Linked DNA regions of Homo sapiens. The protein of the gene in region 2 interacts with the protein of the main gene of each other region in a pairwise test. Each region holds a gene or a part of one and is shown on either strand. Other genes may lie near its edges. The genes, in order: RNF170 and TMEM109.

The links.
Region 1: the proteins of TMEM109 (region 2) and RNF170 interact in binary tests that used the Homo sapiens proteins (3 or more experiments, as listed by UniProt).

The regions. Positions count from the first base shown.
Region 1 is NC_000008.11:42,855,704-42,858,923, forward strand, and holds part of RNF170 (E3 ubiquitin-protein ligase RNF170), read right to left. Parts: intron 726-3,220; coding exon 456-725; 3' UTR 1-455. UniProt on the Homo sapiens protein: E3 ubiquitin-protein ligase that plays an essential role in stimulus-induced inositol 1,4,5-trisphosphate receptor type 1 (ITPR1) ubiquitination and degradation via the endoplasmic reticulum-associated degradation (ERAD) pathway.
Region 2 is NC_000011.10:60,912,757-60,917,124, reverse strand, and holds the start of TMEM109 (voltage-gated monoatomic cation channel TMEM109 precursor), read right to left. Parts: upstream 2,968-4,368; 5' UTR 2,857-2,967; intron 1-2,856. UniProt on the Homo sapiens protein: Functions as a voltage-gated monoatomic cation channel permeable to both potassium and calcium. Plays a role in the cellular response to DNA damage.

The DNA.
Region 1 (3,220 bases), on a different chromosome or scaffold from region 2:
CCAATAGTATATAATATTTTATTGGAACAAAAATATTTAGATGAGTTTCACAGCTATATATTATCATATAGGTACCTGCTGAGAAGGATAAGATGGATAAACTGACATTTAACAATATTTTACTATACATCTAATTAATCTAAGTAATTCTGGGGAAAAGAAAAATATATAAAAGCATCCCTTTTTATATAATTCCATATTTTTTCCAGACAACATAGAATCAAGATACAACTGTAGATCATTATAATTCTAAACTTAATATTAGAACTTCAAACATGAAAATTCCAGTTATACCTAGGTATTTGTCAAATGATAATCAAATGTTTGTCTTATAGTGGTTTTATATTTGTGAGATAATACTCCATTGCTTCATTGCTTTATACTGCCATGGGTCCTTCTGTTTGATGTTCTACATTAGCTCAGATATCCTAGTAAACTCAGTTTTGTTTTCTTTTTCATCTAGTTAGCCTTTGGGTTATCACTTCTCGATACATAATAGAGATGTAGATAAGCAATAAAAAGATGACAAAGAAATCATCTAGAAAGCCTAGAATTCCAAACAAGGCTTCAGGTACAAAATCTAGAGGTGATATAAGATAGAAAAAAGCTCCCATTAAACAAAGTATTATCCTGATGCGAAACATCCAGAAAAGGCCCCCGACTGAAAACATTTCCCTGAATGCATGCCTCAGTAAAGTGGGTAGATCCATAATTCTCTCCATAATCTGGTAGAGGGAAAAACAAGTATTATGATTCAGCACCTAATGTGTCAGATTTCAAAATAATATAATTTTCTTACTATATGTAAACATTGTTAAGATGAATTAAGGAGTTACACATTAATTGAACATATTTTCTAATTATGTGTTGTATTTAAAAATAGCTCTTTGAATACTAGTTCTTACAGAATAGATCTTATTGCAGATAATTGAAAGGCAACTAAAGTGTCAACAAGCTTAAAATACGGGATATAGTAATGCAAAACTCAAGTAACATCTGATTTGAGTTAGTAAAATAAACCAAAGAACCTAGCGCGCAGGATTAGAGTCTGAGACTTGAGCTTAAGTCTCAGCTTTAAAGTCAGACAGATCTGGGTTTGAATTCAAAATCAATCACTTACTAGCCAGGTGATCTTAGGAACAGTTGCTTAACCTACTAGAGATAATTCAACAACTAACTGTGTATTTATGTGCAAGGACTGTTAAGAACGAAAAGGTTCCCTGGCAAGCGGACTAAAAATTCAAAAGAAAAAAATAACTAAAAGAGATACTGTGTATGAAAGACCTTTATAACTTGCCAGACAATATAGAAGTGATTATACATTAAAGACATAGGAACTTTGATGGCTTAAATAGTTTAAGAATAGCAGTGAAACTGATTCCTTCTGGTGAATCACTTCCTCTGGTCATTTCTCTGCTATGTTTAACAATCTGTGTAACAGTCATACACGCAAACTCTAGATAGGCGTTTTATGTAACAAGTGCCAAATAAGTTGAGAGGGAGATGGAGACAAAAACGCAAAGAACTGAGCAAGTGAGGAGAAAATAGTTTTTGAAACCCCCAGACTAAGAGAAAATCATCTTGTGACTCCTTTTGGAACAATGCTCACCGAAGTACAAGAATGGTTGTTTCATAATCACTTCCTATGTTCTGTGGAAGAACTAATATCTAAAGCAAAACAGCCTTACAGCTTTCACAAAGTTTATAGTAAATGACTTTAGATACTCTAACAAACAGCCAGCATGTCTTTTGAATACCCTTCTGTCCTTTTTCAGAGCTATTTTGTTCACTTGTAATACAGTATCATCATTTATACAAAATCTTTAATAATTAGACCAGAAATAATGAAATGGTTTAGTAAGAAATGTTTCTGCATAAACTTACTCCAACTTTGAAGGAGGCAGAATATTAAAGAGCTAAATGCCTTTTTTATATTATAATTTCATCACATACCAGGCTTTCTTACTCATTAAATATCTGACACAAAAAATAATAATTGAGTAATAGTATGCTTCACATTTTAAAAATAATGAAGGAAAAATTCTAAAGGCTGGATGCAGTGGCTCACACTGGTAATCCCAGCACTTTGGGAGGCCAAGGTGAGCAGATCGCTTGAAGCCAAGAGTTTTGAGATCAGCCTGGAAAGCAGGGTGAAACCCCGTCTCTACTAAAAATACAAAAATTAGCTGGGCATGGTGGCACACACCTGTAATCCCAGCTAGTCAGGTGGCTGAAATATGAGAACTGTTTGAACCCAGGAGACAGAGGTTGCAGTGAGCCGAGATCGCGCCATTGCATTCTGGCCTGGGCGACAGAGCGAGACTCTGTCTCAAAAAGAAAAGAAATGAAAAGAAAAATGTTAAATGACTTTATTAAAGTTTAGTGGTAGCTCTTAAATTTGAAACAGGTTGCATTTTTAAAGAACCATCCTACTGATGTCACCGGAGGATATGTAAAAAAAAAATTGCTGGGTCAAAATTGCAGAAGAGGCTCCCAAATAATTATGGAGGACAACATGATTGGATTAAGTTTTTTTTTTTCCTGCTCAATGAAAAATGGGTAAATCTACCCATTATCATCCATAACAGTTGAAATCTATGCCCTGAAATGTACACGACCTCACAGAACAAGGAACAATGGAGCATGAGCACATGTCTGTTTAACACTGAAGCATCTGAATAGCTTAATATATTCGGCTGGGAGCAGCAGTATCAATTCTTATCTTAACAGTAATTCATTTATTCAACACACATTAAGGCACCAAATTTGGCACTGTTGGAAACTCGGCAGTGGTAAATAAATAAAAATGGTCCTTACCCTTATGAAGCTTTTAGTTTACTGAGAGAAAGATAATGAACAAGAATTGAGTGCTGTCTATGATAAACGCCATGAAGGAAAGGTACAGAGGGCGCCACAGAGCAGGGAAAACTTCTCCAAGGAGGGTCTACTTAAGATAGTTGTCATTTAAAGACTGGGAAATCACCATAAGAGCAGAAGGACAAGCATTCCATGCAGAGGAAGTGTCAGGTGTGACAGCCTTAAGGTGGAAGGAGTTTGTGTGTGTGCTGAGAGCATAGAGCAGGGTGGCTGCAGGGTGGTGATTGAGGCGGTTAACAGAAATTTGGAGAGGGAGGGAGGACCAGATCATGTGGCGCCCTGTAAGCCACAGTAAGGAGTTGGAACATTCAAAGACATTGGGCCACAAGTGGTGGCTCATGCC
Region 2 (4,368 bases):
CCTTCCAGAAGCCTGGAGGGTCAAGCAAGGCTGAAAAACATGCAATTCATGTAGAAGGCCCTCAGGCTGGGAAAGCCTTCTACTGTCTTTGGCACAAATCAAGAACCAGATGGTTCCTGCCTGCCAGTGGTCGCAGATGAGGAAAGCACAGGTGAGTTCCTGAGCTATCTGGGTCATAACCATGTTGGGGACTTAAAAGAGCAGGGTTGCTATCTTGGGTTGGATCCTTTATCCAAGGACCTCCACCAGGAGGGATCAAATATCGTTTCCTCAGCCCTAGGAGGTCAGGGTGCCATAAGCTGCTCCTCCCACAGCAGCCTGCCTTGTTCTGTGCCAGCCCCAACTCTCCAGTGGCTGTCTGCCCCAGTTAAGGGGAGCTAGGAGACCTTGAAATAAGCCCTCTGCAGTGAGGCTGGCATCGTTATGCAGACTGATGTTCTGAAGTGCACCAGATACCAAACCTAACAGGATTGTGTAGTGTATCCTTTGGAGATAATGAGTGCAGAGATTGGCTGGCTGGTCTGCTTTTTCAAATTGTTTTCTTTAATAGGATTCCTTCTCATTTTTTTCCAGGTGAATCTCAGGCAGTATGGACTCACTGCTATTAGGCCTCCTCACTTTGGCCTAATCAAATAGTTTTACTAAAGGCATGGAAACAGTCTCAGCCTCTGAGAGGAGGAAGCATGTCTTAAAACTTCTTCACCTTCTGCAATGCCTGGCCTCAGACAAATAATAGGCACTCAATTAACAACTCATAATAATACAAATGTTATACATATCTATACATATACATATGTTATAATAATTTTTGTGTGGTGCTTTATAATTCACAGAGTGCTTATTGTTTCATCACTTCATTTAACTCTAACAACAATCTTTTAAGGTATTATTACCCTCTTCATCTTACTCAGAAAAGTATGGCTTAGAGAGGTTGAGTGACTTATCCAAGATCACACAGCAGAGCTGGGACTTGACTCCAGTACCCAGGATCTCAATCTTGCCTTTTTGCTTGTCCCATACCCGCATGCTGCCTTGATAGTGGACATAGTCCCTGCCCTCATGGAGCTGAAGTTCACCAACAAGCTCAAAGTGGAAGGACATCCAGACTCCTCCGAGGGAACACATACCAGGAGACCATCTGCCTTCTGGGCTTACAGGCCATGGTTTTGTACCAAGAGGTATGAGAGGACAGCAAAAGGTGGGAGACAAAACCTGCCACTTCTGTTCGGCAGCTGCAATATGGCTCAGGTGGGTCTGGAGAGCCCAGCCTGGCTGGGGAAACAGCTTTACTTATTGTGTTAGTGAGAAGGCGCCACTGCTTATGTTTAGCTGTGGTTTGCTACAAGGGTAGGATGGGGCATTTCGCGCCCCCCCCTCCCAATCAAGGCTCCTTCCTCCTCTTCTCTTTCCTTTTGTTAGTTTCATTTCATGCTATGAATCACCAGGTGGCAGGAGGGGCGGCAAAAAGTGCCCTCTACCGGCTCTGACTGTCCCGCCGCTGCTCATAGCTGCCCCTAAGGAGCGGCGGTTCTCAACTTTGGCTGCCCATCGGAACTGCCTGTGCAGCCTGTTAAACAAGGACGTCTGCCCCACCCAGGGCTACTCACTCAGACTCTTCCAGAGAGGGACTCAGCCCTTTGTTTTGCAAAGCTCCTCAGGAATTTCGGATGCATAGCCAGCAGCTCAGGGAAAAGTCTAAGCAAAGCTTCAAAAGTGCAGCAGTGTACAAAGGACCCCTGACTTCCGTCCCAGGCTCAAGTGTGCCACGGACTAGAAGCTACTACCTTACGCCTGTTACTTAACCTGCCTGAGTTGCAGTCTCCTCAAACGTAAAAGGGAGTGAACCCAGGTGAAGAGTTGCTGTAAGGAGTTAAGATATTTCTGCAGCAAGCGCTTTGTAAACTAAACATCTATAGAAATGTTGCAGCACACACATTACCACTGACTATATATCGTAGCATAATTTAGCAGTTTATCAACCTGCCTTCCCCAGTAGACCGAGCGACTCCCGGTTAGACTTGACATGTTGGAATCCCCAGCGCCTAGTAGGAAAGATGACTAATAAATGTTTATTAAATGAATATTAGCAACCTGCCAAGAAACCGTGAGGGTCGAACGAGAAAGCCATGGAGAGGTGAGGAGGGAGGTTATTTTAATAGTAGATCCAAATATACAGCAGCCACACGAGAAGCACAGCTGAGTCTAAAGGAAGGTCCTAAACAAGGCGAAGCCGCCACTGCAGAGAATGAAGTCAGCGCCCTGGCAGGTTGGGGGCAGCTCCCACTAAACCCCTGACAGCTGCTGCCCAGCAACTGTTTGGGGGCAGGGCGACGGCAAAGGGGCAGCTTCCCTGCCGCTCCGCGCCCTAACCGGGGCGCAGCCTCCCGGAGACAGGGTGTCAGTGGCATGTGCTATTTCGAACGGCGCGTCCCCTGCCAAGCGCTGAGGGGTAGCGTCGCTGGCAAGGAACGTGGCGCGACCCATGAGTTTGGGGCCCCCCGAAGGGCTCGAGCCGAGGCTGCAGGAGGCTGGGCCGTGGGTCGGGGTTCGGGGGCTCGGGCTTGGCGCTGGCCTGGTCCCCACGCCCGGGAGCCGCTCCACCTCTGCCGGACCTCGGAACCTCGCCGCAACCCTCTTCTCCCCGGAAACGTGCGCCTCCCGGGTTGCCTGGAAACGACGCCCCCGGTTGCATAGCAACGGGGATCCGGGTCCCCGGTTTGTTTCGCACGCTGGGCGCGCGGACCCCTCCCCACTCGGACTCTCCAGGCCTCGCGGCTCCGCCTGGTGCCGCCTGCAGCGGCTGCTGTCTCCCCTTCCCGTGCGCTGCCCCACATTCCGACCTCGGCCCGCTCTCACCTTTCTCAGGCCACTGCTATCCTTCACGTGCGACTTCGCTGAAACGCGCCACCAAACCCGCGCCTCAACTCGGGGCGCTGGTTTACCTTCTCCGCATGCGCAAGGCGGGATGAGCTCGGAGACTAGCCGGCCTTCCTCACAATCGAAGCCTGTGCCGGGAGCGCATGCGCCCCGCTTTATCTATTGCGTTTCTTTTTCCCCCCACAAGCATTCCCACCGAGAGAAGAATGGGATCGGAAGTTCCAGCAGGGAACGGAAGTCTCTGGCTGGAAAGGGGAAATAAGTGACTATATCTGGGCTGTAGAGTGGGTAAACTGGATCTTTGAAATCGGAGTGGAAGCTAATCCTCCTCTTGCCACCACTCGGCATTTTGGGTCATGTAGTTCTAGAGCTACAAATGTTCCCTGGGGCATTGTGGGCAATGTAGTTCTAACCGAGCCGCTAACGAGCACCTAGTCTTCCCATACACTTTTCGCGCTAAAAAGGCACAAAAGAGAAAGATATTAAAGGAGCAATTAAAAGCACACTGCTCTAGGAAAACGAATGCGCTCCCCCAGAGAGAAAATTCATACCTGAATACTGTAGACGGCTCCCAAATGTTAGCTCAGAATTTCAGAGAAAGAGAGGAACCAACTCTCACTCTCCTTTTTCTGCCACAAAGGCAGTGCATAGGGACAGGAGGCAGATAAATGCTAGGTAGAAAAGAGCGGGTCCCTGGTGAAACCCCACCCTCAAGCCAAAAAGCCTGAAACCATGGCCCAAAGTGAGAACTTCTATCCATGTTTTTCCAGTTGAATGTTGCCTTTTCCTAAGCCACCCATGGCTCTGCCCTGCCTCATCCTGTGCCTAGAAAGACCCCAGACTCATCTGGCAGAGAGGAGAAGCAGCTGGATGAGGGGACGACCATGGCTGGATGTCAGAGAGAAGCAGCTTGTCTTCAGAGGGACAGCTTAAGGCGTAACTTCTGAGACGAATCTGGCTGGAGATAGCTGGACTTCAAGGGAAGACTACATACCGGCCTGTCCCACCCCCCTCTTTTCAGCTCACCTTCCCTCTGAAATCCACTTTGATCAGCAATAAAATCCCAGGCATTTGTCCTTTAATTTGTTCGTGCAGCTTTATTTTTCTTGGACGCTGGACAAGAGCTCGGGAGCCACGAGTGCGGATACAAAAGCTGTCACGCTGGCCCTCTGCCCTTGCTGGTGGAGGGCAACCGCGGGCCCACGGAGCTGTTAACACTTAAGCTGTCCACGGACGACAGAGCCAAAAGAACACTGTAACATGCCCTCTGGGGCTTCAGGAGCCTCAGGCACTCTGCCTGGACACTGCCCCGGGGCCTGCACGGAGTTCGCTCCTGCCGGTGTCCAAAAGCGCACGCTCTGGCTCCTGCACCCACTCACCTGCACGCTCCCTCCTATGAGGGGTGGAACGCGGTGAATCTTGAGTGAGTGGAGTGTGATCCCACTGGTGCTGAAAAACGGCTGGCTTGTTCCAGCGCTTGTGCACTCCAGT